Regions from separate parts of the Homo sapiens genome. Here region 2 is linked to region 1. Evidence: fine-mapped expression QTL. Tissue or cell type: whole blood. Region 1 holds a variant in brackets; the other region holds the start of a gene. All regions are shown on one strand. Distances are between the middles of the regions. Region 1 holds the start of LINC02313 (long intergenic non-protein coding RNA 2313). Region 2 holds the start of ARHGAP5-AS1 (ARHGAP5 antisense RNA 1 (head to head)).

Region 1 (12,209 bases):
CCATCCACCATTTATGCATACACTACTTACTCAGCATATGTTATGGGCTGAATTGTCCCGCCTATCACCCCAAATTCATATGTTGAAGTCCTAACCCTCAGTACCTCAGAATGTGACTATATTTGGAGATATGTCTATAAAGACGTAATTAAAGTGAGGGTGGGCCCTAATCCAATTTTACTAGTATCCTTATAAGAAGGGGAAATTTGGACAGGTGTGTATAGAGAGGAGACTACGAGAAGACACAGACAGAAGATGGCCTTTTACAAGCCAAGGAGAGAGGCCTTAGAAGAAACTAACCCTGCTGACACCTTGATCTCAGGCTTCTAGCCTCCAAACTTGTAAGAAAATAAATCTCCGTTGTTTAAACCACTCAGTCTGCAGTATTTGGTTATGGTAGCCCTAGCAAACTAATGTACTTCCAATATACCAGTGCACTATGCTGGATATGATATGCTAGATAATACTATGCTATACCAGTGCACTATGCCAGATAATACATGTACTTCCAATATACCAGTGCACTATGTTAGATATGAATGAAGTATCATCTCTGCCTTCAAACAGCTTCCAGCCTGCTAGGTACAAAACACTGCTAAGTGTCAAGGAAACTATAAAGCTACAGTGATGAATCAAACCTTTAGTTTCATGAGGTGCTTAACATTCTATAAAACCAGCCCTTGCCCCCATTGGTTTGTATGGGGTTACAATTGGCATGTGCCCCTATTTTATTTTGAATTCTGACCCCAAAAAATGTTTTTGCGTATGTCAGTTGGGAGTTAAGTGAAATTTATATCAGCCACAAGAAACTAAAACCTGAAGAGGTATGAGAGGTTGTGTTTTACTTTTTAATTCATATAGCATGATTTAGGTATAAAACAGCCTTCAGAGTATTTTTGTGGCTTTAAACCCATCAGAAAACTCATTTTTGCAGTAAAATCCTATCTTCATGGCAGATCCATTTATTCTGGGATCACACAGCTTCGGCTGATCTCCAGAGTAAGCAGAAGATACAGTAGTGACAGCTGGCAGCCTCGCTCACTTAGATTCTGTTTGTGCAACTGCTGTTAATATGGAGCCGCTAACCTAGGAAAAAAATCATGGCTTGAACCAAGGTGGAGGACATGGAGCAGGGCCCTGTGGCTTTTGGAGTAGAAGTGGTCACACACGTTAACAAACAGCATGAACCCAAACTATAAAAACATAGAATTTTGAGAGCTCTAAGGAAATTTGGATGTTATCTGGTCAAAGCCCTCATTTTGTAGATTTGGAGCCAGACACACAGGTTAAATGTTAAGTGGCTTGCCTACGGTAAAAAGGCTAGCTAGTAACAGAAATAGGATGAAGACGTGTCTCTTGCTCTGAGTACAGCTGTCTTTTCTGCCACTATAGGTTTGGGTTTGGGAAATTAGTAGCCCAGAGCTGATTCCCACACAAACACCGTGTCTGTAATTCAGGTGTGTTGCTGCTGAATAGAGTGTTGTCTATTCTTAGTGTTGGTCTGAACTGCTGGGCTTCCTATCTGTATTGGAAACTGAGTCAAACAAGTATAGCCCTCTTCTTCCACCCAAAAATAGAGCTGTTTATCCCTCACCCCCTCCCACCCCCTCTGCTCAGGTGATGGGTACACCAAAATCTCAGAAATCATTACTAAAGAACTTATTCTTGTAACCAAACACCACCTGTTCCCCAAAAACCTATTTAAATTAAAAAAAATAGAGCTGTTTAATATAACAAATGTAGAATGAATGCAAAGAGAAAATGAATGCCTCTTGGGTACCAGCTGTGTGGCAAGCACTGTGCTGGCCCTTCATGGCAACTATGAGGAAACTGAGGTTGAAGACATTGTATCTCTTGTTTAAGATCTCACAGTACCAATTGACAGTTCTAGGATTTGTTCTATTCCAGAGCCTACAAGTTTTCCACCAATCTATGTTCCCTCCCTCAGCATAATTAATAATTGTTATACTATAAGGCTAAACTAAATTTATATCAAGATGTCCCAGAGAGTTATATCTTATTTGTTAACCATTAACTTTTCCCAATCAGACACTTAATGCAGCACTAGTTCCATCTTAAGACTAGAACAGAACACCATGGATGATGATTTTGAACCTCTTTTGGCCAGAAATGTGCCCAGAGTTCTAAACCTTGGACAGCTTTGCATCAAGACCTTTGGAGGCAGCTTTCACCTACTCATATACGTGATTCACCATCTCCATGGGGCCCTCTTTTCTTGATTATTAGGTCTGACTTTATTTACAGCTGAAATGTGATTCCCTTTTATGAAGATCATTTTTTATTCCAAAAAAGACCTTGGGTATTATGTCCTGTTCTCATGGTCAGAAATCTGAATGCTTCAATATACTGCATTTTGCTTTTCTTTCATAGCCAAATAAAAGAGAAAGACCACAGTTATACATAGTGTGTCAGTCTGGCTCACTCAGATTATGTTTGTAAAATTCCTTTTTCTATAGAGCTAATATTTACTCAGCACTGATGTCCCAGGCACCATATGGTATCCCAGGGACCATACTAAGCCCTTTCTATGGATGGTCTCTCTTAAGACTCAGAATAACCTTTTGTTTATAAACTGTCACATAGGAGGGTCAAACAACTCAGCCTGGTTCATACTGCCATCAAAAAGCAAAGCTGAGCTTCGAACCCAGGCTGTGTGTGCAAATCCCTGAGCTTTCAAACCACTGTGCATGCTGTCTCCCAACTCTTTGTTTTTTCTGTGCCTTTCTCTAGCCAGGAGGTTTTTCTCCACCTGCCCATTTATCTTCCATAATTCTTGCTCTTGGGACAGATGATTTCCAAGGTCCCTTCAAGTATTGAAATTCCATGACTGATTAAAAATTATAATGTATGCAGTTTGATTAATTTGCACTAATGCCTGAGTTCATTCACAATGTTAATTTCTTTACAAGGTTCCAACAGTTTTTTAACTTACAGATCTCCTTCTGATGTTAAAGGAATCATGCTGCTTTTCCTATAATAATATTTAAGTCCCCAGTTTTAAAAACATAAGGTTTAAAAATATATCTGAAAGGATTTTACCATGCATGCAACACACCAATTTTCCATATGGACCAAAATAGTCTTTTTAAGACCCTGTTCTCTCAGTTGTCTTTCCCAAGTCTCACAGATGCAGTGCTAATTGCATGCAGCTTCAGGTCCTTTATAACATGAGGTAACAATTTCAGTGTCTTGGGCTTGAATGCTGCATTTGTTAGACATGCCAGGCCTGGAATTGGTGTCAGCTCGTCAGGATGCTGAATCCACATGGAGAGCAACTCATCTGAACGTTGGGAAGCTTCCTGGAGAAACTCCTGTTGTGCTCCTCTCAGGCATGGCGTGAGAGCCAGTGGTGTGACTGGTTCCTTAGCTAGGATGCATCTTGGTCAGACTTGGCAGCACTGGGTGATGGCTCTTTGGGACCAGTGCAGGTATTTGAGTCTCTCTAGTCAAGTTGTACTTGTTGAAGAATGATTCCAGAAGTGACGTTTATTCACAGACCTACTACTTGGGCTACTTGGGCTAGCTCCAAGTGTCTGAGTGGCTCGGCGGCTGAAGGCAGACTGCACTTGGGACACATCTAAAATTCATTCTGACTGGATTGAGAAAACAAGGAGACCAAAAAGAAAAGAAGTGGCAGGATTCTGCAATCACATCTGTAACTGAGGAGCCACGGGATATAACTTTGGAGAATATCTTGACCTGATCTTGCTTTGCAGCTTGTCTGTAGTTCTAGTCTTTAGAGTCGCGGAAGCCTGAGTTCCCACCAAGCTCAGCTCTTAATGGCTGTGTGATAATGAAGACGTCACTTGATCTTCCTGAGCCTCAGTTTCTTCATCTGTAAATTGGGATGAGATACCTCCCTCATGGGTCTGTTGTGAGGACAACATGTGATGATCCTGCCAAAGCTCTCTAGGCACTCTGTGCTTAGCTGTGTGGCCAATGCACAGTCAGCAGCGACACGATGCTATTTTTACTGCCTTCTTTCCCTCTTTCCCCAAGAGGACACACTCCTCTAGAAAAATAAGGTTCATGCAAACCTGCACTTTAAGAGCATTTATACAGATGTGCACGATGCAGTGCATGTGTCTTGATGGGGCTTTGTTAAATTGAATTTTAAAATTGTGTTTTAAATATACTTAGGGAAGTACAGAAAGGTACCCCAGAACAGGTTGTTTTATAAAGACAACAATAATTTCTGAATTATTTTCATTTCAGCTTTTTATATACTGTGTAGTCACAAAATGAGAGACCCTCCCCCACTCACCCCACCCTCACAGCTCCCCAGAGGAACAATAGCCATGAGCAAACAGTGCTTGCCTCCTGACCTTCGGGTGTTTCTCCTAAAGGCTAGCTCATTTAAGGGCAGCAGTCAGGGGCTTGCTACTCTTCGCAGCCCTGTTTCTTTTCTTGTGATGAGAAGAAACAAGCCCAGGCTGACAGCTGGCCAAGACTTGAACTAGAATGTTGAAGTTGAAAAGTCAAAATGGGTCTGTGTCAAAGGACTAGCAGAGGGGAAGGGACTGTCCTCCGGGGAGCTGAGGAGTGAGGATGGTCCTCACCTCGATCCAGCGATCAAATTCCCCAAGTAAATCCATGTAAAACATGAACTGTGGCCAGCACTTGTTAAGCAAGGAATATTAAAAATCATTGTCATTACTGCTGCTATTATTGTTACAGGCTTGTTCCAAGACTCTGGGTTTTGGCTCAGCTTGTCTAAATGGTCTTCCATCTTAAGGAATCAAGGGGTAGATTTTGGAACCACTAGCTCCATAGCCAAAGAAGGAGCAATCCAGCAACTTAGGCATTGATTCCGCAAGCCGTCCCAGAGCCTCTGTGTAGTCCTTACTTTCCCTAAATTGCCATGACTAGCTGGCTCAAGTTAGGCCTTTCTAATTTACCTGGACCGTTGCTGTCTCCTGTGCACGGCTGCGGGGATGAGCACCTTGTTGTGCGTTCCTCCGCTGGGCTGACGGAAATGGTTTGCAGCCAGACTGCTACGCCACGCGGTCTGGCATTTAGTCCTCAGAAATCTGATTTAGAGAACGTATACATTGCATCACAATCTAGATTTCAGAGGAAAGTTTTGGATAGAATAACCCAGACCCAAGTCTGGGTAATTTAAAGCCTGGGTGAAATGGGGCAGAAAGAGCCCAGAATATACAGGTCTGAATCTTGGCTGGGGTGATGTGGAAGACTGGAGGCGCCAGACGGCTGGCCTCCCTCCAAGTGTTTACCATGCTGGTGCCATGGGGCTGGGGCTGGGCAGTCCATGTGCTCATTCTTCCCTTCTCTTCTCCTCCTCCTCCCCCTCCATCTCTCCTCCTCCTCCTCATGTTTTCTATAGGCTAGAGAAACTCAGGAACTACTGACCCACAGGGAAGGCAAGCGGAGATATGAGACGGAGGAATCAAACGCTGCCCTGGTGGAGGACGCTGTGGGTTTACAGTGGATGATTTCCTCTGCCTATGAGATAAAAGGGCTGGCTCTGTACTTTGAACCCCAGCCTCACCCACCTCTGCCTGGGTGTGGCTCTTACTCTCTGGAAGACTTACTCAGGGGAGAGGACAGGACAGTGTGAGGCTTGAATCTCCAGGAAATAGAGTCTGTGGGCAGCCATTGACTCCGAGTCAATGAGAACAAGGTGTGCTGTTTCCTCTGTGCTGTTTCTTCCCTGCCCCACTCCCCGCCCCTTTGTCCTATGGTGCCCAGGCTGCCTGCACTGCCCAGATACCACAGGCCTTGCCAGGGACCTCCTGAGAGGTTTCTGAGGCTTGCAGCCAGTGGTCCCGTTAGTCTGCACGTCTCCGAGTTGCCCTCCCAGAGGAGAAAGCATATGCTGCTGGGACCGACTGCAGCTCCTCATGGATGCACCTGCCACCAGAAAATTGTTGTTCAGTCTGGGATTGCTTTCTCTTCCCAAAGCACAATCTCACATGCAGTCATGAGCCCAGTCCAGCCTCTGGGACAGAAGATTTCGTGCTTTTATAAACCAACAGCACTGCAGGTGCTGCACAAGGTAAGTGTCTCCCTTATTTCTTTCCCTCCCCGGAAGCCTCTGTATCAAACTAGGAGTTACCTTAATAGGGT[C/A]AAAGGAGGGTGTGGCTGTTTCACTTCCTGTTGTCAGCAGCCAAGTGTGCCTGAGGACAGAGGGTGGTGGGCAGGCATCCATTATGTGTAGGGAGGCAGGTATTGTACTGCTCTGGAACACACTGAGGAAGGGGGGTGCTCTGGCTTCCCTGACACCACCTCCCTGGTCAGGCTGCCGCAAGGCACCCAGATGTCAGTTGTCTTCCCACAACCTAATCATTCACAGCTGCTCCAGGGCCACACTTAGGATCTCTTTCCAGCGGTCCTCTTAGTCTGCCCCAGGGGCATGGCAAAGGAGGGCCTTTCATCCAGGGATCTCACACTCACAGAGACTTCACATTTGGATTTTTAAAAATTTATCTCTGAAGATATGCTAATAAGACTGAAAAGATGGAAATGATCATCAGCTTTAAACTTATGCCTGATTTTGGTACCAGGCCCATGAATTTTTAAGATTAATCCTGCCATTATCCCGTGAATAGGATGGTTATATTACCCTGTGCGTTTTTTTTTTAAAGCTTACACGTGTTAAAGCCTTAATTTATTAAATGTAAACTTCTAAAATATAGTATATCACAATTTTTGAAACCCTATTTGGGGATTTCTTCATTTTAATATACCTGAAGCCTCAGATAATGGGCGTGTCCCTGGTCTTTGTCCTCCAAGCGGCCCATTGGCCACTCCCCTCTTGATGGACTGTGGAGAGAAGCTGTTCCCTTTCCACGTGGTCATTTCAACTTCAGAAAAATCTCAGGTGCAATTGCCTGTTTCATTACAGCAGCTAGCCTATAATGAAAGAGGCCTTCGAAGCTTAGGCATGCCCAGTTTGGCCCCTTTCTTCATTTTACACACTGTTTTCTCCTCCCACAGGAAGGCTTCTCTCTACGGGGCTCAAAGCTACAGGCTCTCCACCATAGGGAAAATGGCCGACTAATATTCTTGAGTTCTTTACCCTTAGGCAATGGGGCTCAACTGTGACTGCACATTGGAATCAGTGGAGAGTTTTCCAAACATCCATCCGATGCCTGGGTTCTACCCCCACAGAACCTGATTTACTTGACCTGGGGTGTGGCCTGGGCATTGGAATTTTTTAAAGCACCCCACATGATTTTAATACACTACAAAGTTTCAGAAACAGTGCCCTAAGACCCTGGTTCTCAAACATTAGAATTCATCAGAATAATGTCCTCGTGGGGAGGGTCTTGTTAAAGCATAGATTGCTGGGCACAGTTTCTGATTCAGAGTTTCTGGATGGTACCTGGTAATCTGCATTTCTAATGAGTTCCCAGGTGATGCGATGCTGCTGTTCTGGGGATCATGTATTTACAACAGTTGTGCTAAAAGAAAGACAGTTAGAGTGGTGGGTTGGGAGGAGAAATGTGAGTGAATGCATGAAAATGTAGTTATTTCTTATTCTCAACCTCTGCAGTTGGCTTCAGAGTCAGGGACACCCCTAAATTACAGCAGTTACAGAGTATATTGGTCACCAAAGCTGCCACTGTGCAGAGACCCAAGCTAGGATAGAGCTGAGCCCCAGCAGCTGGACCCTGGTTGGTGGGGTAAGGCATGGTCTGAAACAGTCTGGGGCTACAGATCAGCTCTGTCCAGTGAGAATATAATACAGGGCACAAGGGTGAGTCACTTATGTAACTTCATATATTATAACCACATTGAAAAAACTAGAAACAGGTGAGATTAATTTTAATAATCTATATTATTTAACTTAACCCTCCAAAATCTTATTTTAACAGTCATCAACATAAAAAATGATTAATGAGATATTTGGCATTCCTTTTTCATGCTAAGTCTTTGGAATCGTACATGTGTTTTACACTTACAGCACATCTCAATTCACACCAGCCACATTTCAATGGCCACACGTGGACAGTGCCAGCCTGGATAGACCTAAGTACTGGGGCCGTCTGCCCCTGACGTAGGACTGATCACAAAGGTCCTCACTTCTCCCGGCAGCACATGGCCCCTCCTTCCATGCCTCTCAGAGCTCTTGGAATCTGTTCTCAGCATCTGAGAATCCCTCTGGCGTTCTTTACCATCGGTGCTTTGGACAGCACAAAAGGTTAACCAGGTTTAGTCAGGTCTGCAGGGCTTGTTCCCTCATGTCTGTGCATCTGAGGTCAGAATCTGAGAGGTTTTCATAGCCACTCCCACTCTCTTTCCTGACTTCACCATCTATAGAGATGAGTTCAGCGCCGGGTTTTTGTTGGAGAGAAATGGGTGTCTGAAATGGATTGAGGAAGAGAGTGAGGGGAAGCTGTAGTTGGGCCTAACAGTAGAACCAGGATGGAGTTTCTTTCGAAAGCTGCAAGCAGGAATGACGCTGATACTTCTGGTGCCTACCCCTGTCAAAGGACTCCAGAGCAGTGTGAGGTTTGTGACAGGACCAGGGTGACAGTCATTGTGCTCTTCCAGCAGCATGCTGACCTCTCTCCAATTAAATTCACTAAACATACAAGTATTGAATGGCTACTGTGTTCTCAAGTATTGAATGCCTACTGTGTTCTCAAGTATACTGATAAGGCAGTGGGCTATAATTATTGGAACTACACATTTTGGAATCAGTCAAGCCTGAGTTCAAATCCCCACTTTTGCAATGTGATCTTAAGCAAGTTACTTAATCTCTAAGCTGTGGTTTCTTCATTTGCAAAATGTGGGTAATACCTACGTAGTAAACTCCTGTGAAGATAAAGTGAAGTGATACATGTCTTTTCTTAGCACAGTGCCTGACGCACTCAGTGAAGGCATTCAATGAATGGTAGTAGGCTGGGACTAGGTGAGGTGAGCAAAGTGCCTAGGGTGCAAAATTTAGGGAGGTACCCACTCTCATGGTTGTGCAGGTGACACTGCGTGGTGCTGTCAGCACCATCATCATTGTTGCAGTTGTGTAATTACACTGTAGTGTCATGGGCATTCCTGAGCTACATAAGGCATGGCCTTTTCTCTCAAGGAACACAGGGTCCCTGAGGGGAGAGAAGACATGTATGTATACAAGCAAGCCAGGACTGGGAGATGAGATGATTGCCTTGAGGGAAGGAGGAGACATTGCTTCCACCAAGGGATTCAGAGACTACATCCTTGAAGAATGGACAAGATATCTGCAGGCATAGATTGGAAGGAATGACAATTTATAGAGGGAATGGCTTAAAGCCGTGGAGGCAAAAAACTGCTCAGGGAACATGGAATGTTGCTATACTGGTGCATAGAGGCAGCTAAAAAGGAATGCTAACAGTCTGGCTGCAATCCAGTTGTATAGGGCTTTAAATACCAGGCTAAGGAGTTTAGACTGTATTTGGCTTAAAAAAAATGCTGGGGGGAGTCATAGATAGCATCCCCGGAAAGAGGGACCAGAAAATGAGGAATACCTTTTCCTTTTGAGACAGAGAGGTTTTTGAGAGTCAGAATATATTGCCATTGTCCTACCAAACACAAGGCTTCATGTCTCGAGGCACATGAAACTTGTAAATTGTGTCATCCATTACCACCCCTTCTTGATCCTACTCCCCTGGAGTAACCCCTATTACTGTTGTCGTATATATTCTTTCAGACTTCCCTCTATACGTAGACAATATATAGATTCACAATTTTTAACCAAAATTGGATCATGCTGTATTTACTGTTCTGTCATTTACTTTTTTAAGTGTCCTAAAATATATATAACATAAAATTTAGCATTTTAACGATCTTTAAGAGTATAGTTCAGTGGCATTAAGTACATTTCCAATGTTGTGCAACCATCACCACCATCCATCTCTACAACTTTTTTCATCTTCCCAAACTGAAACCCTGTACCCATTAAAACACCAATTCCACATTCTCCTCTCGCTCTAGACCATGACAATCATCATTCACTTTCTGTTTCTATGGATTTCACGACTTTAAGTACCTCATATATGGAATCACACAGTATTTGTTTGTAACTGGCTTACTTAGCATAACGTCTTCAAGGTTCATCCATGCTGTAGGATGTGTCAGAATTTCCTTTCTTTTCATGGTTGAATAATATTCCATTGTATGTATATATCACATTTAGTTTACCTATGTAACCATCGTCAGAGTTGCTTCTGCCTTTTGGCAATTGTCTGCTATTTACTTTTAAATAATATATCGTGGCCATCTTTCCATGTGAGTTCCTGTAGATCACCTCATTCTTCTTAATGGCTGACTAATAGTTTGCTGTATGACAGTGACTAGTGTAGAATCACAACACCAGCTAGTGGGGCAGCAGGGATTTGAATCCAGTTTTTTTCTGGCTCCAAAAGTTGAGTGTTTTTCACCATTCCAGGGGACATGCGGGATGTGTACATTTTGAACCATCACATGGCTGGCATGGTCTTATGCAAGTATAATATAATGTGCTACAATTTGATTAGGTTTTGAGAGGCTTCTGATCAATGAAGTGATGAGTGCTTGTGAGACCAGGTCTAGCTTTGATTTTGGAGTCCCTACTCTCTGTACTCCCACAACACAGTCATCACCAGCTTTTAGTCACTGCTGACCTGGCCACCTCTCAGGGTAGCTCTGGAAGAGTATTGAATAGTAGTAGCATCTTTAGGAAAGAAAGGACCACAGAGTTCATCTGGCTCAACCCTTTGTTTTAGGGAAGGAGGAAACTGGAACCTGAGAGATGAGCCCAAGGCTACCTGTGAGTTTCCCTCTGCCTCCACTGAGAGGGTGTGGCTGCTAAGTCCTATCAGAAGATGCCCCACACTGTTTTCATTCCAATTTTACTGACTCATAGTTACTCTGTTTATGCTGGAAACTCATTTCCCCAAGTGCACTGTTTTTATTGTTTATTTCTCTTGTATACATGTATTCTTCCAGCAGCCTGCCCAGGTTTATTAAAAGATATTTACGTTTTCTGATCACTTCTACTTCCTTCTCTTCCTCCCAGGAATGGAAAATCAATCTGAGTGTCATTAAGAGCATACTCCCTGAAGAAGATTGCTGATGACAGTGGATTTGTCACCCAGCTCAGTGTCTTTTCCTGAGCAATAGGAATTTCTTCCATGGGGAATGAAACCTAGTGTTGTTTCCCTGTCTGAATCCAGGCCTTTCACTGACCTGCCAAGTTTTCATTCCATTGTCTCACTGTCATTGGCTGATCTGATCTCTACATTGATTAATTAGTTTCAAGCCCCTTCATACTGATCTAATAAAATTGGCTTGTTTAATTTGTGTCAGGAAATTTCTGAGAATGTTTCATTTAGACTCTGATAAGGTACATTTTTTTTTTAATGTCCTGCCGGAGACATCCCTTACGAGGGAGAGCTTGTCCTTCCTGCCATCTCTTGAATTACGCAGAGCAAACGCTGAAAGGATGGCGGGATTTCCTGCTGCCAGGGTCAAATGCTTCCACAACAAGCAGATCTGTCTTTCAGGGTGCAGTTTTTTATGTCCTCTCACCAGAAACACATGAGAATGCCATCTTTCCACCTCTAGAGGTTGTCTGAGCTGCTGGTAAGCATCAAAACATAGCCATCGAGAGCCAGGACAGAGCCACGGCCACTTCACCAGCTCCAGTCTCATGCCACTTGATTTATAAATGCCTTTTTTTTAATGGGCTGTCATCCCCTCAGGAGAGGTTGGAGTAAAAGTCTCAAAGTTGAGTGTTTGCTCTTCTGTCACAAAGAGAAATGGATGGGAAGAACAATACAAATGGCCTACAGGCGAGCAGGGGACTCTGCAGAGCCGAGCCCCATCCTGGTCTGATTCAGGCACTCAGTAAGCCTGAATGGGGCGCGGTTACTGGGGCGTGGTTACCCGCTGGCTGGGATGAGAATTCTCATAACTACTTTCCCAGTCGGCAACTGCCAGGATGCAGGGAGCTTGTTTAGTTAACACTATGAGACCACTGGATCCAACTAATCTCTATTTGCCTGTCTCCCCTAAGATAACTTTCATAAAAATGTGTAAACATGTTCTGAGAGTCTTCTGAAAATTCCCTCAAAGCCCCCTGACCGCCTGCCCTCTAGCTGGGGCTGTGGGGGCGGTGGCTGAGGCGCCCCCCTCCGTGGGAGGCTCCTCATACATCTCTGTCAGGAAAGGCAAGAGCCGCAGCCAGAAATGAGCTCCCCCAACAAAGC
Region 2 (12,209 bases), 130 kb after region 1:
AGTTGGAGAAAGAAGGTGAGTATTCTTATTCCTCACTGTATAACAGATGTATATGAAAGAAGCTATGTGTTCATCAAAAGAATCACATTGTAATTTGAGACATACAGAAGTACAGATGCACCTCAACTTATGATGGGGTTACTTCCCAATAAACACATCATAAATTGTAAATACTGTAAAGTCAAAAATGCATTTAATACACCTAACCTACCAAACATCATAGCTTAGCCTAGCCTAACTTAAACATGCTCAGAACACTTACATTAGCCTACAGTCAGGCAAAATCATCTAACACAAAGCCTAGTTTATAATAAAATGTTGAATATTTCATGTAATGTATGGAATACTGTTCTGAAAGTGAAAAAAAAATGGTCGTATGGGTGCTTAAAGTACAGTTTGTACCGAATGCTGTCACTATTGCTTTCGTACCATCGTAAAGACAAAAAACCTTAAGTTGGACCATCGTAAGTCAGGGGCCTTCTGTATTTAGAAGTATGTATATATTTATTGAACTAGAAAAATAGTTGTATTTTTGCCTTTTTGAAGAAAATGCAACATGTGAATTGGCAAAATAAGTATTTACCATCTATTTTAGTTTAAAATAATAGGGAAAACCGACAGAGACTTAATTGAGAAGTGATTAGCCACTTTATCGTTGGTTTCAGAAACTATACTGCACCAGTTCTTTAGAATGTTTCCAGATGTTTCAGACCTATAGTTATTTGTTGTTAGTAACTCACATTTACCTACTAGAGAGATGTTATGTGGAAATATGTCGATTGTACTTGAGGAAGGACATCTAACTCAACTTTCACAGGTGAATTCAGCGATTTCTTTAAATGATTTGTATTTTCCAAAGTGATTATCTCAGCTGGCACTTCGAAATATAATCTAAAGCCTTCTGTTAGCCACAAATCCACAGAAATCCATAAAACCTAGAGTGTTTCATGTTATTATTATCAAACATTTATTGAACTTTCTACTAATGATCTTCTAGTTATTATATAGAGCCAAACATTCATTTTGTTATTCCTATGTAGAGAGACTCACAATCTAAATTTGGTCTAAATAGAGTGGGAAATTCACAAAAATTATGTTCATGAGGTTAAATAGTCAAGCAATACAAGTTCCTGTTTCCCATTGTAATGATTTACAAATGACAGTGGTAACAATCTCAAACAGAGAATTCAAATCCTTCAGTTAGCAATTCTTGCAATTATTTTTTAGCTTTATGGGGTTAACTTTATTGGGGTTGATTAAATTCAAGCTGTGATCTTTCATAAAAACTCAATAGAGAGTCCAGATGGCCCAACAATACCTCCTTTTGTGAGAGGAAATAACTTGAAGATTTTGTCTAATTAAAGTATTTGTGCTGGTGGGATCTGAATGAATTGTTTTTCCTTTAAAAGGAGTCTGCATTACAAATAATCTTTACAAAATACGAATTATTTAAAAATAGTGTGCTGCTTTCAGTATTTCAGTTATGTCCTAGGACTAGAGTTTCATGAGCATGACATTTTAAAGCTAGACTCTGATACCATCTTTGGGATTTCAGTCTGAAAATACAGTTCTGGAATATCAACAGAACAAGGCTGTGTGGAACAAAATGCCAAGAAGGTCAATGCACTACTTTCCTCCTGTTCCAGTCCCATGCTCACAATTACCTTAACTCTTGTCAAAATATTTTCTACAGTAACAGCCAAGACATAATTAGCACCTTTTCTTCATGTTGAAAATATCATTGGTACCCATAAAACAAATTTGGGGAAAGCCCTTAAGCACCTTAATGCAGCAAATGGCTACTGTGGATTGATACACCATTATTTGCCTAGCTGAAGGATTAATATCCCATCTTATCCTGCCTTCTTCCTCCCCTCAAGTAGGCCTAATTGTATGAGATAGAGAGAAAAAGAGAAGTCTAGGCAGGAGATGGGGATAAGGTAAAGAGTGGAAATACAGTTGGAAATTAAGCAAATATCTTACAAGTGTTTTGGCTATTTAGCTATTTACATCATTATTCTCCATCCTCTTTGTGTATTTTGTCTGTAATCAAGGTGATATTCTGACATAGGTTGTTCTCCAAAAGCCTGTCTTGTATCAGACAGGCTAAAGTATTGGTCAATTCTGTCATGAGTGGTAAGGCCCTTTATTTGGCTTTTCATATGTTCCTGATTGAGACTACAGAAGCCAAAGTTGTTATGATCAAAGATTTCCAGCAGGGGGTGTAGCTGCCTCTATAGGGTAAGTTCTTTTGAAGCCACAACATATGAAACATTTGAATATTGCAGTATTACCACTAATGGTAGAAGCTGGAATTATGATAACTTTTTTTATGACTGTCATGTCTTTTGATCTCAAAAAGACCATGCATATTAATACTTTATTAGGATGTGATGAAGAACTAGAGATTTATGAAGAAAATTTAAATTAAAAACCGAAAATGCCTGACAAATCTTATTCTAATTTTTTCAAAGTAAACGAGGAACAAAGAGTCCAGTTATTTTAATTATCCAGTACAGCAGAAGAGAGGCTTAACTTTTTTATTCTAGATAAGAAGAGTAGTTGATTTGAGAGGGCTTGTTAATATTTATTCCATTTCCATTTCTGTCCGATATTTGTGCGCGCGCATGTGTGTGTGTGTAAATAAGTTACCTATTTTCTTAAAAATTATCCTTTTGAGTAGGGAGGGTGGGTGTTTTAAAGCTTTTTCTCTGAAGTCTTGGCTCCTGATCAATTTTTAAAGATGCCATCTTACATATTTTTCCTCCTGCTCTTTGATGCCTTTTATTTATGGATATATAGGCATTATTAGCCACAGAATTGTGGCCCCCATTTCAGATTTTTATTGATACAGAAAACTCTATTTTTTGAGAAGAGCAAATTACATACAATAACTTATTTGTACTGGTAAACACCTTTAGACTATTAGTATTAATAAGAAACGAAGTCCTAAATTTCCAGGCTCCCTAAATCAAGATAAAGAACTGAAAATAATGTCGACTATGAAAATCATTGTTTGGAAATCGTGATCTTTTTTTTTTTTTTAACGTCTTCTGGTGTCTTCATTATAAGAAAATAAATGAGATTTCAAGTCTTCCCTGCCTCCAGTATCATGTCCTATAACTGAACATTACACCTTTTTAACGTTTTCTTTAGAAGCCCTGATTTATTTGGCTTTGGTTTATGTTGATACATGTCCATGATTATTAAAATTTCTGATTATTTAGGACATAATTTTTAAGGTATCTTTAGGGTGTACACTCTATAGTACTTAACATCTTATTCAGGTTATGACTTTGAACTGCATCATTATAACACTAAAAAGCAACCTTGGCTAACTTCAGTACCTTACGTAACATAAGAAATAAAGAATAACTTGAACTTAAAATACTTTTTATATGTTTACTTCGGGTATTCTTAAGGGCTTTCAGTACAAAGATAAAAACATGCGTTGGAATGCATCAACATTCCAACTTACATAAGTGGTGTAGATACCTATGGCATTAGTACCACATTTTGATGGTTGGACCACCCACCAAATTCCCTTCTCTCCTTTTTTACTTCTTTTTCTTTCTGTTTGCTTTCCTTGCAAGTTTCCTTCCGCATCCTTCTTTCCCACCTACAATTTGTAACTGAAAGAAAGAAGTAGCTACAGACCTTACCTAACCTACTCTTAACCTACTTGGTAGGTAGGGTTCAGATGCAAGGGAGTGGCTCGAATAAAGCATTTTAGTTATGCCTTTTAGAAATTAGGGAGCAAGAGATATATAGAAAAATTAGAAATGTCTCTTCTACCTTTATTAAGTCTACCTTTGAGAAATATGAAGGGCAGGAAGACGGAAAAACGAACAGAACTTCTGCTGGAATATTGTGACAAATTTACTGACAAATATTTTCTAATAGATTTTTACCAACAGGCAGTTTTTGTTTTCTTTACTGACAGACCGTAAATGTACTTCTGGTTGGCAGCAGCTGCATCATTATAACACAAAAGCAACCTTGGCTAACTTCAGTACCTTATGTAACATAAGAAATAAAGAATAACTTGAATTTAAAATACTTTTTATATGTTTACTAACATTAAACTATTTTCAATGCAGGAAATAAATATTTCCCCAAAGAGGAATCCCCCCTCAATTACTTTCTTTCAGACTTAACAAATTGGAGTAGATGTGGTTTTGCTCATTCTTTTATCTGCTGGCAACTATTTTAAGTCTCCTGTGCAAGGCAGATTCCGATGACCTCGGGAAAGTCACAGGACCTCAGTTTCTTCAATGGTAAAAGCAAAGGCAGTGGTTTCTACCGTCCTTTCTCACTGCACCATTCAGCGTCAGTGCCCTCATGAGAAACACACCCAAAGCCCAGTGTGCTCTACCCCAAAACTTGTGAAATTTCTAGAGTCTCAAAAAAGTGAATATGTTTAAGGCAGTATAATAAAAGCCAGGTGGACGACAGTTCCTAAAGTTAGGCTGGTAGTGGCGTGAACAGGGGTCTTTTGGGCCACCCTGAGACCCGCCCCACGGGGCTTCTCGATCCACGTCTTGGCTTCTCGCTCCACTTTCACAGAACGTACTGAATCAGGGGCCTGCATCCCCGTGCCGTGCCGAGCCGACGGAGAAATGGACTCCTCTTCTCGCTCCTGTGGAGTTTCGTCTTCTGGGTGAGTGTGGCACCGGGTCCTGGGCGGGTGATGTCTGTAGTTGGCGAGCGATCCTCAGCCAGAAAACTGGCTGCGCACACAGGCGCAGACACGCGAACATGTTCCTGCGAACGAGCTTGGGCGCATGTTTTCCTCCCTTGCTTTCTTTAATGCTCAGAGACCATAAGGGGATTTATCGAGAAGCATTCGGTGCCCATGCCCGGTTTGGAACCGCGAGCACAATATCTGGTTCCTTTGCAGTACGGTGGTTTGCTCTTGAGTTACGACCAGAAACCGGAACAGAAGGAAAGGGAGAAGCAGGGGAGGTTCGGGGACGACGGCGCTCCGGGCAGTAAGGCAGTAGCTTCCAAAGCGTGGAGGATGGGACTGAGGAGGAGCAGAATACGGAGAAAGAGGGAAGCTGAGGAAAAATACTCACGCCAATGGGTAAAAGGGAAAAGGTGAGAAGGAATGGAGTAGGGGAGGGAACCAATGGTGGGAGAGGCGGAGGAAGAAGGGGGAGGGGTAGAAGCCAATGGGGGAGTGGAGGGGAGGGAGAAGCAGAGGGGAGGAGGGAGCGGGGACGCGAGCGAGGACGCGGCCCCGCGCGCTCGTCCCCCTCCCTCCGACTGGATAGCTCGCGCCTTCCCAGGCTCCCGGGAGACGAGGGCAGGGGCGGGGCCGTGCCGGGTGCGCGGCGCGGGAGGCGTCGCGAGGTGAAGGGGCGGGGACGGGGGATTGTGGGGAGGGCAGCGCGGGTTCGCGCGCGCGCGCGCGTCCCGTCCAGGCTGCGCCGCCGCGCCGCCGCTCCGCCCCCGGTCGGGTGTGTGGCTGCGCGCGCCGGGAGAGATGCTGAGGTAAAGTTCGGGAGAGAGGGAGAGAAATCCGTCAGCGCGAGGGAGCCCGAGTGGCCGCCATTACTGAGCCCGGCGCGGCGGCGGGCGCTGGGGAAGGGGGGAGGGACGGGCCGCCGCTGGTGGCGGGGAGGGAGGGAGGGAGGGTGGGTGAGCTGGCTGCGGGAGCCGTGGGGCTCAGGGTTTCGGGGCGTGTGTGTCGGGGAGGGCGGGGGGAGGTGGCTGAAGGGACGCGCCGCTCGGTGAGCGCGCCGAGGAAGAGAGGCGAGCGGAGAGTGGAGGAGGAGGCGGCGGCGGCGGGAGCGGTCCCCAGGAATGTCGCTGCCGCCGCCACCGCCGGGGCCGCTGCCGTTGAGGAGGAGACGGAGGAGACCGACGTTGTTAGGTAGGACCTTGCGGACCCCGCTCCTCCAAGCCTGCCTGCCCCCTCCCGGACGGGGACCCTCCTGCGGCTAGCTGCCCCGCTCGGTCGCCGCTGCCGGTTGTAACCAGTTGAAGGGGCTGGGGCCCCGCGGCCGCCGAGGGGAGCCTGGCGCTGCGCTCGGTTTTCGCAGGCCGGGCGGGCAGCAGCTGCAGCGTTAGGGATACGTTCGGCGTGAAGGGCAGAGAGGCCGGGGGAGGGGGTGCTTTCTCCACAGGTGACGGGGCCAGGGTCGGCGGAGGCCTGATGCTGGCCGGGGATCGCCGGCCCCGCCAGGCGTCCGCTCTCGCCCGCCGCCTCACTTGCTCGAGTCTCGGGTGGTCCGTCGAGAGGGGAGGTGGCGGTGTCCGTTGGCCGGGTTGCTGCTGTTAACGAGTTCCACCTGGAAAGGGTACACGGGGCGGGTGCAGATTCGCGGAAACACAGTCTCGGTTGCAAACTTAAACGCCTTGTAGGGGGGATCGGCCCTTTCACTTTCCCTCATCTCCTCGACTCCTCCCTGGGTTCTCTTCACCAATTTTCCATCTGCTTTGAAGCTTGGAGTAAGATATGAGAAGTTGCACTGCGCATCCAGAGCCCAGAGTCCTATGGGCTGACTGCGACTGGGTTGAGGCTTTGATACTGAGTTTTCGCTAGAATAACCTCCAGATTCTTCCTCTCTTTCCACTAAAGAAAAGTATCGGGGTGGGGGTGGGGAGCCGCGCGGGAGCGCGCGCGCACTTATCCACACAGAAATACTCCCTCTCACCCTCCCTCTTCAGCGTTATTAGAAATGCAAGAGAGCTGGAGGCTCGGGGTGTAGCTGAGGTTGAAAGGTGCACGGAAGTAAGGGCAAACTGTTATTAGGCCGTTTAGTAAAATCCCGAAAAAGTTGTAGGGGAGACGCTTATACTTCTACCATGTGATAGAAATTCGGATTTGGCCATCGCTTAATAAATGGGAATTCAAATATTTTGAGATAGAGCAAGATAGGCATATAGATGGGTTTGTGCTTACGTTTTAAGTTTAAATTCTTATCGATCATTTATTTTTTCCTTTGTGATAGGCAGGAAACTGAATTTTTTTTTAAATGTTCAGGTGTAAAACAGCAAAATGCTTCGCTGTATTTACTAGTACTTGCTTATGTTGCTTTCTACAGGTAGGGGCGGGGGGCGAGTTTGTCAATTCCACTTAAATCCAGAACCAGTATTCAGTTAGAATGTTAGGTGGTGTTTATCCGCATGAAGGATCTCGTTCACTTCATGGGAGCTTGCTCTACATTTCCACTTAAAATGGTTCTCCTAACAAAAATTTCATCTAGATGCAGCGATTAGACATTTGGAATAATGTTTGGTTTAAAAATACGTTAATGAAACCTTTTGCTGTCAATTCTAGTTTATTTGTACTGTAATACGATAAAACGGTATTCTTATTCAGTGTTTGTAGATAAGTATTACTAACCGTCTAGGTAACCTACTAGATAGTTTCTTGAGTAAGATTTTGCTTTCATTTTAAATTCCTTTCTCATTTTTTGCTTTCATCTATCCTTTGTATACTAATTGACCTCCATTACCTTTATCTGTAGTACAAAGAGCGGTAAGTATGTGTCACCAAAAACTTGCAAAGACACTGGAGCAATTTATGACTAAACGCACTGGAGTGAAAGGCTGCGCATACCTATGCTTGTAACTTTCAAGAAATAGCACTATTGATCTAATTGACTTAAAGCAGAATCAGACGGTACAGATGATTAAATAACTATTGATTTGGTTGTCTTGTGTAGGCTGTGTTTTTAAACCTAGATCAACATGTCTTATTTTGCCATTCTTTGTACATTAATTATTAAGAGTACTGGGGAGTGAGGTGGGTTACACTTTGATGTAAGAATTGCGGCAGAATTCTGTTATCTTTATGAGTTTTGTAGTGTCCCTCCCCATTTAAACGACCTTAGCAATTTTTAAAATGTGTTGCAAAATTATTACCTTAATTCTGTCACAAGATACTTATCCTAAATGTTTTGAAAACCGTCTCCCCTTCTTATTTGTGTTTGAAAAGCATATTAGCACAGTCATTTTTTTGGAGAGTTATTTTGACCTTGAAAGTTAAGATTATTTAAGGAATGAATATTGTATTTGCATTCCTTTTTTGGATTTGAAGTAGCGATAATAAGTTTTCTAACTCACTTTTTTTAATTGAAGAAAAAGTTAGGTCTCATAAAGACTTTACTAAACTTTACCAACATTGGCAGGATGTAAGATGAGTGTTGGCCTTTAGTGGTCACTTCTTAAATATGAAATGGCATAATAGAGATTTTCTTGGTAGCTACAGAATAAGTTTTGTCGCAACTGTAGTTTCCATAGATACTATTTTAAGAACTATTTATTTGGGTTGTATGGTCCACAGTTTTTTCTTTGCATACCAAGAAGGTGTGTAGTAATATAATTGGCTGAAGAAGCATTGTACAGTGTTGTTTTAGTGATGTCTATGTTCCTAAAAGATACTTGTATTATATATTTAAAGTACACCAAGGGAATTTAATTTCTAAAAGACCTGTGAAGAAACATCAGTAGATTCATCATTCAGTAATTTGAGTAATCAGGCTCTTGTTTTAAGTGCAGGCTTTTGTCGATTATTTTATTGAAATAGGAAAAACCATATTAGAAATTAAGAAAAATGCTTCAATGCTAAGAATTTTAAGTATGAACTTTAATTGGTTTTCAAACTCTGTTCCTTGGATTCCTGTGGGTTTTTTTCCTAGATGCCTTGAGACTTCCTATGACAACCCACCCTCCCAAACCAGGACAGCTTCTATTTTCATGTATTAAGTGTATTGTATTTAAATATAAGAATATTTAACTTAATTAAATATAAGAAAAATATTTATTATTTAAATATAAGAAAAATAACTAATGGGTACTAGGCTTAATACCTGGGTAACAACAAACCCCCTTGACATGAGTTTACCTTTAAAACAAACCTGCACATCTACTCCTGAACTTCAAAGTTAAAAAAAAAATTCCCCTTAAAAAAAAACAAAACTGATCTGCATTAATTTTTTTTAAGTCTCTGATTCGTTATTCATTAGTTCAGATTACTTTTATTTAGCACTTACTATGTGCCTAGCCCTGGAAATACCAAGATAAATTAGATATAGGTATAATAGCTCAAGCTGTATAAAGGAGTAAATAGTTAAAAGTATTAAGAGGTGCAGGAAAGAGAATGCCTGTTTTCCTCAGGACCTCTGGGAATCATTCATAGAAGAAGAAACATTTTGAGTTTTAATTGCAAGCAGGAGTTTAGATGTAAGAGAGACCAAAAAGGATAATTTTTTTTTTCCCCCCACTGTGTTTTGGAAGCTGTCTACAGTACTTTAGATTTGCAGGGAAATGAAACAGATTGTTGATGCTTGGTCATATCTGTGTTTTACTTCATAGAATTATTACTTGGGAAAAAGAGCATAACCTTGTAATTTTGTGGTTAAAATGACTAGTATGTTACTTGCTTAGAGTCTCAAGCTTTTCATCATGAAGAGTTAATGGTAAAAATGGATATTCATTTTTCTAGTGTTAGATTAGATTTAGCCTATTTTATTATCCCTGACCAATATTTTATTGAGCAGCTAGGCACTGAGTGATACAAAAAGTATAAAATATTGCTCCCTTAAAAGATCTTTTAACTTCTGTGGAGAGACAGCAAGCATGACACTTTAAGAATTTGAGGTATATTTAGGGAAGTACATACTGATTTAAAAGTTAGTAGAAAGGAATTTAGCTAAAGGAAGTGTTACTTGGATTACATACTGATTTAAAAGTTAGTAGAAAGTTATTTAGCTAAAGGAAAGTATTACTTGGAAGTAGCATACAATTGGGATAATGAAGGGGGAAAAAGACATTTAGGGAAGTTAATGACAGTGTGGACTGAAAGCACAGGTAAGTAGAGGACAGATTAGCAGATGGGAAGAAAATATAAAAATGTGTAGTCCTAGCTACTTGGGAGGCTGAGGCAGGAGAATGGCGTGAACCCAGGAGGCGGAGCTTGCAGTGAGCCGAGATCGCGCCACTGCACTCCAGCCTGGGCGACAGAGCAAGACTCCTTCTCAAAAAAAAAAAAAAAAAAAAAAAGATGTAAGAGCATCAGTTTTGTACCTTATGAGCCAGAGTGAAAGATTTGGAGAAGGTATTAATGCAAGAGTGATAGAAGGGGTGATGTAGAAATAAACACGTAACGTTGGCATAACTATTTGTCTAGTTACTGTATTTGGTTTGTCAAACAGCCTTGGAAAAACTCTCACCTTGGCTTCTGATATGGCATAATTTGTTCATTTTCTTTCTGTTGATCATGTTCTTTTACTGATTCAAAATTGTTTCTTTTTATACTTACCTTTTCAGAGCCAAGGTAATATCTCTTTTAGAGAACTAGTAAAAAATTAACATTACTATAATCTAGAGCAGCGATCCTTTTTGGTACCAGGGACTGGTTTTGTAGAAGACAGTTTTTTCACGGAACCGGGGGCATGGTTTTGGGATGAAACTGTTCCCCCTCAGATCATCAGGCATTAATTAGTTAGATTCACAAAGGGAGCAAGCAACCTACAGTTCTTGATCCTCTGAGAATCTATCGCTGCTGTGGAGGCGGAGCTCAGGTGGTAATGCCCGCTTTCCAGGCCACCCCTCACCTCCTGCTGTGCAGCCCAGTTCCTAATAAGCCACAGATGGTTACCAGACCGGGGTTGGGGACCCCTGATCTAGAGAATTTAAGATCTAGATTTCTACTCTTCTGTATTAACCAAGTATCTAATTCTTCATATGTTTTCTTTAGAAAATAAGAGTATTACACCAAATGGTCTCATAGGTAATTTTCTGAAGTTTATGATGCTGAAATTTATGTTAATAATCCTGAACTTGCCTTGTTTCATTACCGAGGTTTCATTTGTCTTTGGAAATAACACCTGAAAGTGAAATGAACCACCATCTATTGCTGAAACTGATTAGTTTTTCATTAAGAAACACTGGCTTAATGTGTTGCCTTGTATTTCTTATGTCTAGTAGCCAGTTACCAAGCTCTCTTTGTCTTGCATTGCTCTTTTATTGATTAATTAATTAATTTTTTTTTTGAGATGGGGTCTTGCTCTGTCACCCAGGCTGGAGTGCAGTGGCACTCAGCTCACTGCAGTCCGCCTCCTGGGTTCAAGCTATTCTCCTGCCTCATCCTCCTGAGTAGCTGGGATTACAGGCACACGCCATCACGCCTGGCTAATTTTTGTATTTTTAGTAGAGATGGGGTTTCACCATGTTGGTCGGGCTGGTCTCGACCTCCTGACCTCAAGTGATCTGCTGGCCTCTGCCTCTCAAAGTGTTGAGATTACAGGCATGAGCCACTGCACCTGGCTGGATTGCTCTTTTAAATTCTGTGATAGTTCACGTGCATTTAGCCTGTAGTATTTGTCTATCTCTTGGGCTCTGTGCCCAGTCTTGTATTCCTCCTCTAGACTAATCTGTAGTGGCTTCTCTATTGCTTATGACAAAGTCTAACTCTTGTTTTCCCTTGAGACCTAGGGTCATAACTTATATGTTCAAAACAGTATTTCTTTCCAACATGGGTACTGTGGTCAGCCATTCTACCCTAATTGTACACCTGGAGAGACGACTTTACAATCCAAATCTCGTCTATTTTTTAAGGTTCACTCAAATCCTTCCTCTTCATTGAAACCATTCATCTGTTTCAGGGGTCTGCAAACTATGGCCTCTGGGCCAAATCTTGCCTACTCTCTATTTTTGTAAAATGGCTTTCTACATTTTGAAATGGTTGGGGGGCAAATTAAAAGAATATTTTGTGATATGTGAAAATTACATGAAATTCAAATTTTCCTAAGTAAAGTTTACTGTAACATAACCATGATCATTCATTTAAGTACAGTCTATGAGTGCTTTTGCAGTATGACAGCAGAGTTGAGTAGTGTGACAGACACTGTGCAGCATGCAAAGCCTAAAATATTTACTGCCTGGCCCTTTACAGAAAAAGTTTTCCAAACCCTGAGTTATTTCAACTTGTACTTTCATTTCTTTGAATTCCTGTTGCATTTATTAGTACCATGGTATAGCACATTGCCTTTATCTCCTTGGCTATGGTACTGTTTATTATTATGCTTTTTAATGTAGTGTGGAAAGTGCTTTTCAGTCTTTTTTTCCCTTAATCCATACTTCCTTTAAAGCTTACACCTCTTGTTGATATTCTTATTCAATCAGGTGCTCTCATTTTAAAAATTGTTAAGCCGTATCTAAAGTTGTTTGTATGATGAAAATGACGGTTCCTCTAC

Evidence for each region. PIP is the estimated chance that this variant, and not a neighbour inherited with it, causes the effect.
Region 2: it holds the start of ARHGAP5-AS1, and the variant in region 1 is fine-mapped to the expression of ARHGAP5-AS1 in whole blood (TOPMed, PIP above 0.99). The same link has a PIP of 0.9 or more in T cells.

The regions. Positions count from the first base shown.
Region 1 is chr14:31,939,072-31,951,280 of GRCh38, forward strand. It overlaps LINC02313 (long intergenic non-protein coding RNA 2313), which reads left to right and starts at 5,782. Exons shown (of 2, transcript NR_146544.1): 1 at 5,782-6,037; 2 at 11,018-11,223. RefSeq lists enhancers at 5,064-6,263, 11,664-12,209. The variant C/A (reference allele first, on the strand shown) is at 6,109.
Region 2 is chr14:32,071,558-32,083,766 of GRCh38, forward strand. It overlaps ARHGAP5-AS1 (ARHGAP5 antisense RNA 1 (head to head)), which reads right to left and starts at 5,142. Exons shown (of 1, transcript NR_027263.1): 1 at 3,862-5,142. It overlaps ARHGAP5 (Rho GTPase activating protein 5), which reads left to right and starts at 5,747. Exons shown (of 7, transcript NM_001030055.2): 1 at 5,747-5,878. RefSeq lists silencers at 5,168-5,427, 5,788-6,007, 5,806-6,100.